Regions from separate parts of the Homo sapiens genome. Here region 1 is linked to region 2. The links come from fine-mapping of genetic effects on gene expression. A gene starts in region 2. The other region holds a variant in brackets. All regions are shown on one strand. Distances are from middle to middle.

Region 1 (4,382 bases), 52 kb before region 2:
TGTGGAGTGAAAGAAGCAAGTTACAGAAAACAACACGTTTCCTTTGGATAAGGAGCAAAACCTGCAAAACTAAACTCGCTGTTGCAGATACAGCCATGGACAGAGGCAGGAAGGGATGCGCTTGGCGTGACCTCGTAGCGCCCTCCCAGGGGGAGCGGGGGGACTCCAGAGCAGGGCACAGAAGGCTTCGGGGCGGCGTTCAGTTGCCTGGCATAGGTGGTGGTGACACCTTGCTTCATTTTATTCTTGTTCTTTAAATTGTGTGTGTTTTCATGAAAAATATTCTGCTTTGAAAATAACAGGTATGTGTAAAGGAAAGAAAGCAAGCCAAGTCTGCCCAAGTAACTTTATTCGTGTCTTCTCAAACATTTCAGATCAAATAATGCCATTTTCTAATCTTGAAACCAGCAAGATTAGAAAGAGAATGAGGCCATCCTTTCACTCAGACTTTCCCAGTTACTCAAGATTGTATTCAGGAACGAAGTCAAACTCGGCCTCACTTCTTAATTAGAATAAACTAGAATCAGGTCCATTGCATAACTGCTAATTGTTTTGCACCAGGGAGCCACAAAGGAAGCTAAAACTAGCCTTTCTAAGTTATCCTAAGTTTTTACTATCTAACCAGCACTTCTGATTTTTTTTCCCTTAAAACTCTAAAGTACAGGTGTTGTATGTCTGCCGCATCTGAAAGGCTGCCCCGGAAATCAGAGCCTATCTAGCGGGAATGTCTGGGCAGTCACCCCCATCCTGCGCGCAGATAGCAAAGGGCTGCTGGCAGGTGTCAGACACACGGTACCGCAACAGCAGTCCCGAGGTCTGAGATTCTGAATGTCAGCAGGTGGCTGGAGAGTATCACCAGAGCCACTCAGGAACCAGCCATGCGGAATGGCTGGGTTTCTTATTGAACATGAAATGCTTCCTCTTTGGCCTGGACTGTTTTGCTAAAATTGTTAGTGGGTTTTGGGGCAGGCCAGTGTATGGGAAACTTTTTTTTTTGTTGGGGGGGGCGATGGAGTCTCCCTCTGTTTGCCCAGGCTGGAGTGCAGTGGCGCAATCTTGGCTCACCGCAACCTCCACCTCTTTCTTGGGTTCAAGCGATTCTCCTGCCTCAGCATCCCTAGTAGCTGAGATTACAGGCGTGCGCCAACAAGACTGGCTAAGTTGTGTATTTTTAGTAGAGACGAGGTTTCACCATGTTGGGCAGGCTGATCTCAAACTCCTGACCTTAGGTGATCCACCCGCCTCGGCCTCCCAAAGTGCTGGGATTACAGGCGTGAGCCACCGCGCCCAGCCGGGAAACATTTACCAGGGACAATAAAGGCTTAGAAGAACCTTTTGGGGAAACTTTGTGAGGAGCACAATTCCAGAGGGCCCACAGCAGCCACAGCCTCCTGGCGTGACACCAGGCACACTGCCGGCTGCACAGGTTGCTGGGCACAGGCAGGCACAGCCAGTCTGGAAGAGCAGCCCGTCTTAAATCTTTGGTTTCTTTCCAACCAGGAGCAAACATTGGTAGAAAGAGCCAGGGCATATTTACTCTTTACACCCAGAATTTTCATTCATTATTGAACCATTTGGCTTGCACAGTGCTCTCTGATAATGTGGTCCATAAAAACCACCATTAAAGCTGCCCTTTCACCTGATCTGGGTGGGGCTAAACGAGGAAACGAGAAGTTTCCTGTATGCTTCAAAATATAAATCAATGCCAGGAAATTCTGAAAATGGATGCTGCCTGTTAAACATGAAATCACTAAGGGAGCTTCTGCAAAACCCACCCGGCAGCATGAGGAACGGTGTCTACAGCGTGCTCCAAACGGCCACGGCCCCGCTCCTTACAGATCAAAGTTTAAGCCGCATATTCTCATATTTCAAACAAAACTACGTTACAGACATCATCTACGTGGGCACGGATACACACTAAACAAGGACGTAGTACACAATTGAGGGGTGCCCCGGGGAGCGCGGCAGGAATGCCTTCCGGGAAGAATCCTCTGGTCGCCGGAGCCCTCGCGCTGCAGAGGAAACCAGCGATCCATCGTGGCTTCGAGGCAAAAGACAGACATCCGAGACGCAGTTTACACTACTCTGGCTTAAAAGGACAAGATGTTCAATAAATATAGAGAACTCAGTGTGAAGAAAAGACAAGGACAAATCTGGACCACGTGTACAGACTTCAGGCCCTGCCTCAGAGGAGTCCTGCGGGAGTCCAGGACCGGCCCCTCCTCCACGGATGGCCAGCTTCCTCCTGACTGCCCCCAAGCCCGGCTGTGTTAAGCACTTCGCGTCGATATAAAGCATTGGTATTTGACATTTTAACAGTAACAAACTTGCCAGTGCTTTACACACTGCCAGCTTCCAGAGCTTATCATCCGTGCTCCCAGAACAGACGCCAAGGTCATGCTCCCAGCCGGATTGTCGTAGCCTCGCCGCCGTGATGAGGCAGGTGTGGAGGCCCCAGCAGCCTTCCCGG[C/T]GCTGGCGTGGAGGCCCCTCCCGCGGATCACCTGAAGCAGGGCCACGTTGCATTGCAGTTGCACAGTATTGTAAGGATCAAGCAGCGATGTCCTAACCGTAAACGAAGAGGAAGGTGAAATGAAGGCAAAGAGAATCAACCACTTCCCAAAACTTGGCCACAAACCGTTACAGAATAAGTCCTGCAAAGTGGATCAAAGTGACCCACTGCTACCTCAGGCCCAGATGGTGTGACCTGCGTGGAAATCATATAATGTCCCTAACATTATTGCAATAGAGCCACTAACGGGCCATTTTCTAAACTACACTGTTGACATCGTTAAAACCTAAGAGGCCAGTGCCCCCAAGTGAGCAGCTGCATCCGCTGAGAGTAAGCGGCGTGGGCTGCAACCCGCAGATGCGTACAGAACTGAAAATGCCAAATATGTACACAAAATTGTTGACAAAAGGGTTTTCTTCTAAAATCAAGATTTAACTATCAAAAATAAATTTCTACATTTAAATGTATATATCAACATAATTGGTCTGTAATAATTATCTTAAATAGTTTTCACACTTTCCCAGTTTGTGAGCAGGACGCCGGCTTCTCAGCTGTGTGAGTCTGGCTTCGGATTCTCTTCAATTCCTCGTGCAAAGAGTCGAACCAGCTGGCAGTGGACTCTGCAGAGACAAGCGGCCACGTGTAAACCCCACGTGTCCCTCACTCAAAGCTGGCCTGAGCCCCACTCCTGGACAGGGGCTGCAGTAAACCCCACGTGTCCCTCACTCAAAGCTGGCCCTGAGCACCGCTCTTGGACAGGGGCTGAAGTGGGGGTCCATCCCCCATGGAACGGTCAGACGTCACCGTGGGCTGTAGGAGTCCAGCCCACAATGACGGGCCCTGGGCGTGGAATAATTCACTTAGACTCCCGGGATGCCGAGTTTGTAAAGGGGTTGCCAATGGCCAGGTGGGAAATCTGGGCATCGGTAGACCTGACTCGAACTCCAGCACCCCCATGGAAAGCAGAGCGTCCGCTCCAGTGTCTGCCCACTCCACCCACCCACCCACCTCCATTTTCTCAGCAGTACTGAGCGCGCAAGGCCTGCGAGGAGTCTGTGCGGGGCGACTCAATGCGTGTAAGAGATGTGTGAGGAATGCTCAGATGAGAAGGACAGGTGGCCCAACGCCAGCAAGAGCCTTCGGGCTTGAGGAACAAGTTGGGGGTCCCTGGAGGTCCCCTGCCCAGGGGCTCGGTGGCCACAGTGAGTCCGTGGGTGAGTGCCATCTTCCCACACAGGACAGCTCTATTTATCTCATTTATTAATGATATCACAGCCTCCTCAGACGTATTTCAGTAACCTAAACCCCTTCATTAAGTGACAGGCTGGGGCAGGGCACAGTGACTCACGCCTATAATCCCAGCACTTTGGGAGGTCCAGGCGGGCGGATCACCTGAGGTCAGGAGTTTGAGACCAGCCTGGCCAACATGGTGAAACCCCGTCTCTACTAAAAATATAAAAATTAGCCAGGTGTGGTGGCGGGCGCCTGCTACTTGGGAGGCTGAGGCAGGAGAATTGCTTGAACCTGGGAGGCAGAGGTTGCAGTGAGCCGAGACCTCGCCATTGCACTCCAGCCTGGGCAACAAGAGCAAAACTCTGTCTCAAAAAATAAAAAAATAGAAATAAATAAGTGACAGGCTGTTTCCATGGAGCTGAGCTCACACACACACAAATTATATTTTTAAAAGCGACGTGCTGCTCAAGGCATAGCCATATTTATCAAGATAGACAGGACGTATTTCAAGAATGCCTGTCCTGATTTTCAAATTATTCTATTTCTTTAATAAATACATACACCAATATTAAAAATAATCCCACTTCCCAAACTTGTCAAATGAGTTGACAGAGGAAAGTCCCTGTGCACGGCTGCCTGG
Region 2 (4,382 bases):
TTGGTCACCTGGAGCTCCAGGGCTGCTCCTGCCTCATCTCACAGGTCCTCCTAGGGCCAGTTTTTGCACAATTCTCCACCTCTCATCATTCCTCAACCTAATCAATCCCAGTGTGCCCAGATACACCTGGGGGAATGGGGAGGGCTGGGCAATGCCACCTTGCTGACCAAATTAAATGTCCTGTGAGCTGGTTCACATTCTTCTGCCCTACTATGGCCCTACTGACCTCAAGCATAGAAGAATCGAACCTGGGCCTGATTCCTTTTGGGGACTGTAAAGCTATGAGAAAAAAACTAGAGACAGTGTGGCTGTATTCCTGAACTCATTCACAACTTAGCGTTTCCCAACTTGTTGATGTTTTCCCATTGCATGGGAGAGCACTCCTGGGTGGAGAGGGCAGGCTGCTTCCTGGAGGAAGCCCACCAGCCAGGGCCACCAGCCAGGGCCCCACCATCCATGGCCCCACAAACCAGGGCCCTCCCTCTCCAAGAGGGACCAAGCTCCTGGCAGGCCAGTCAGGCAGCTCAGGATGAACCCGCACAAAAGCACCTTGGCTTAGCAAGAGTGAAGCAATTAGCATGCCAAGAGGCAAACCCCAGCAGGCTGGACAAAAGCAGACGCCACACCACACCAAGCCCTGACCTGGGGGACCAGAAACCATAATGGGAGCTGGCTGGGGACGCCAAGGCAGAAAGCAGTGATGACTGACCTCCCACACAGATGCCCTGTAAGGGTCTGGCGTCTCTGCGGCGGCTGGAGCCTGAGGGAAGCCTTACAGCCCAGTGGCTACAAGCACAGCAGCTAATTGGGCCAGTCACTTCCAGCCCCTGCAGATCGGCCCCTGCATCCCTAGGACGGGAGCAGCTGCCTCTCAGGAACCCATCCGGTTTGAAGCCCAGTGGCCCGCACTTAGGAAGTGCTTGGGGGAGGCAGTCATCTTCCTGAAGCCTAGGGATTTACAACAAAGTACAAACCCTTCGGGCCCAGGTCAGGCACCTGTTCTCCTTGTGTGTGGGCCCTGGTGGGTGATATTTGGGGTGTGACATTTCTACCAAAGGGGACATGAGAAATACCTTAGGAAAGTCAAGTCTCAGATGCCCAGCCACAGATAGGTGACCCCAGGGCTGGAAACCAAGTGTTGGTCATGGGTCTGAGACCACCCCTCGACCTTGGCCCCACCTAACGTTCAACTCTGTCCCCACCAGAACCCAACCCACAGATCCTCACCACTCAGCACCAGAAAGCGCCCAGAAGAACTCCTGACCTCGACTGCCCACAGGGTCTAAAGGTGTCATCCCAGGCTCCGAATATCCACCAGAGAATCTTGGCCTCCGCCACACCCACCCCATTCCAGCTCCGCACATCCAGCATGAATCCTGGCCTCTGCCACACCCACCCCAATAATTAAAAAGAAAAAAGGCTGGGTGCGGTTGCTCACACCTGTAATCCCAGCACTTTGAGAGGCTGAGGTGGGCAGATCACCTGAGGTCAGGAATTCAAGACCAGCCTGGCCAACATGGTGAAACCCTGTCTCTACTAAAATACAAAAATTAGCCGGGCGTAGTAGCGGGCTCCTGTAATCCCAGCTACTCCGAGGCTGAGGCAGGGAGAATTGCTTGAACCCAGGAGGCGGAGGTGCAGTGAGCCAAGATCGTGGCATTGAACTCCAGCCTGGGCAACAGAGCAACACTCCGACTCAAAAAAAAAAAAAAACAAAAAACAAACAAAAAACAACAAAAAACAAAAACAAACCCTCTGTCCTCCTGCAGGGCTCTCTCCAGGGTGGGCTATGCGTCCTCCATGTTTACCAAAGTCACTCTTCTCCTCATCCGGAGGGCCTCTGCGGGGCAAGTAGCCAACCCGTGGCACGGAAACCAATTCCCCCATCCCGAGCAGGGAGCACACCCCACAGAAAGTCAGGGGCCCCTTCTTTAACTTCTTAACAGGAAGTCCTCACCCTGCAAGGGCGCCTCTCAGGTTTCGGATCCCTGCTAAAGAAAAGCATCTGTTCTTGGAGTAAACTGCAATGCGCGCGGTGGGGAGCGCCTGGCACCCCCCCTCGGGATCCATCCACAGTCCGTCTTGTCCAGAGGTGCCCTGCGGACAGACCGCACCGGGGGCCACGACCCCGCGCCCCGGGTCCCACCTCCCCGCGGGGATGGGGCGCCGGCCTCCCCTCCACTGCGCGGCGCTTTGTCCTCGGGTTCCCGGAGCAGACGGCGGCGCACAGCCCGGCCCCTGGCCCCGGCCTCCCTCCCGCCTGCCCCGACCCCTCCCTGGCGCCTGCGCTCCCAGGGCCCCCGGCCTTACCACAGCCGCTCGCTCCCTGCACCCGGTCCCCCCAGCCGGGTCCCCCAAGCCGCCCCCGCTCCCTGGCCAGGTCCGGCCGAACCCGGGCGGCGGCGACACTCACCCGCGCCGGGGGCGCCGGCTCCGGGCCCCGGGCTCCGCCACCAGCGCAGCAGAGCCCGCGCGGGCTCCAGGCTCACGGCGCAGCGCTGCTGCTTCACCCACAGCACGGATTGCAGCGGCTCCGCCGCCCCCGTCGCCCCCATCTCCGCCGCCGGGCTCGTCCGCCAGGCTGGGGGCGCGCGGACGCCGAGGGGCGCCGGACCGTTAGCGGCCCCTGCAGTGGCCCGGGCGGCGGGCGGCGGGCGGCGGGAGGCGGCGCTGCGTCACCCCGTACGCGGGCGGCGGGGACCGCGGAGGGGACGGGCGGGGCGGGGGCGAGGAGGAGGCGTGGGTAGAGGAGGGGCCGGGAGCCAGGGAGAGACGGGGGGACCCGAGAAGGGGAGAAGAGGGAGGAGGAAGGGGCCGGGATGGGGCTGGCCGAGGCCAGGGCGCTGGGGCCGGGAGGCGGCTGCCTTTCTCTCCTCTCTTCTCCGGCGGGTGCCGGGTGCTGAATCTGGCGCTCCCGCGGCCGGCCGGGACTCAGTGGCGCCTTCCGCGCGGGCCTCGGTTCAGGCGGGGTCCGGGCGGCGTGGAAACGCAGTCCTGGCGATCGGGCGCGGCGGGGGGCGGGCCTGGATGGGGGCGCCACGGGCGACGTGACCTTGGGCGGCGGGTGCCCTCTACGATCCTGGCGTCCTGTCGGCCTGGGAGGGGGCCTGCAGCTGGGCCCCGACAGGCAGGTAAGGCTTTCAGGAGGCGGAGGTCTTTTTAGGGGGCGGGGGCGCTGGCCCTTTGAACTGCTCTGGGGCCTGAAGCCACAGAGCAGACAGCTGAGCAGCCGCCCCCGAGCTGGCCCTAGGAACCGGAGCCTGGGCCCCAGACTTGGAGAGACACGGCCCCTGTGGCCCCAATTCACCGCCTCCCCAGGAAGGCCTCCTTGACCCCACAGCTGAAGGAATCACCAGCCTGCAGGGACTCCAGCCCTGCCTTCAGAGCACGCCGTGCGCCTTCATGCAAGCTCCAGTCTCTGCGTCCGCAGTGCTTAACACAGCCCCATAGGAAGCAGCCACAACCTGGTTCGGAGGGCACATCCCTCCCTGATTTATCAGTGAAGACTGTGCTCACAGAGGTTAAGTCACTTGCCCAAGAGCACAGGGCTCCAGTGTGGCAGAGCCTAGGCTCACACTGACACTGCCTGGATGTGACACTGAGGTCTGAGGCCTGCCCCTCCCCTCGGCTCCCCTACCCAGCCCTGCTGCTGCAGGCAGAGGTGAGGTGGGCTAGGTCCACGTGGCCTTGCTGCTGTGCCTGGCACCAGGTGGCAGCATATACAGGTCTTACCCTGCCAGCTCCTTGTGACTGTCTTGTCTATAGGGCGGGAACCAGCCATGAATCATTCCTCCCTGGGAGCCCAGCCCCTGTTCAGGCCATGCAGTGAAGGCCCCAGGACAGTCCTGCAGCCACCGTGGGCCCAGTCAGAGTCCTAGCAGGCAGTACCTGATCGTGGCACACAGTGGGGTGTGCAGCAGCGAGGCCTGCCCAGCCTCCTCCCTCCCTCAGCTGCCGCTCTGAGGCCTGGGAAATGTGGATCTGAAACTTACTTGGAAAGAAAAGCTCATGCCAGTGGCAGGAGGGTGCCGCTGCATGCGAAGAGGGTTGGCAGGCAAGGGTGGCATGGGCAGGGGCCCGAGAGCACCAGCGTCCCTACTGGGGACCCCTTCCCTGGGCCTCCCTGTGCTTAGGCTCCCCGTGCCCCTCCCGGCGTATTCACGTTGCTGTCCCCCGGCTGCACGCCTTGGCTTAAAATCCTGCAGCCAGAGGTGGGGGCCCAGAGACGACTCAGAAGTGCTTAGGCCCCGAAGGAGCTCCGTTGGGGGAGACAGCAACATCAGTTACAAAACACACAGGAGATTCAATGAGGCTGTTAGGGTGGGCCCTCATCCAGCGCGTCCTTACAAGAAGAGGAAATGTTGACCGGGCTCTGTGGCTCA

Evidence for each region. PIP is the estimated chance that this variant, and not a neighbour inherited with it, causes the effect.
Region 1: its variant is fine-mapped to the expression of CERK in whole blood (TOPMed, PIP above 0.99).

Annotation. Positions count from the first base shown.
Region 1 is chr22:46,684,078-46,688,459 of GRCh38, forward strand. It overlaps CERK (ceramide kinase), which reads right to left. Exons shown (of 13, transcript NM_022766.6): 13 at 333-3,129. The coding sequence ends at 3,057. Among named protein-coding and RNA genes, the nearest start is that of CERK, 52 kb to the right of the region's middle. RefSeq lists a silencer at 2,235-2,529. The variant C/T (reference allele first, on the strand shown) is at 2,471.
Region 2 is chr22:46,735,594-46,739,975 of GRCh38, forward strand. CERK (ceramide kinase) reads right to left here and starts at 2,659. Exons shown (of 13, transcript NM_022766.6): 1 at 2,414-2,659. The coding sequence starts at 2,555. LOC105373077 (a long non-coding RNA gene) reads right to left here and starts at 799. Exons shown (of 2, transcript XR_001755593.2): 1 at 710-799. RefSeq lists enhancers at 471-1,044, 1,732-1,901, 3,140-3,798, 3,172-3,501 and a silencer at 2,052-3,011.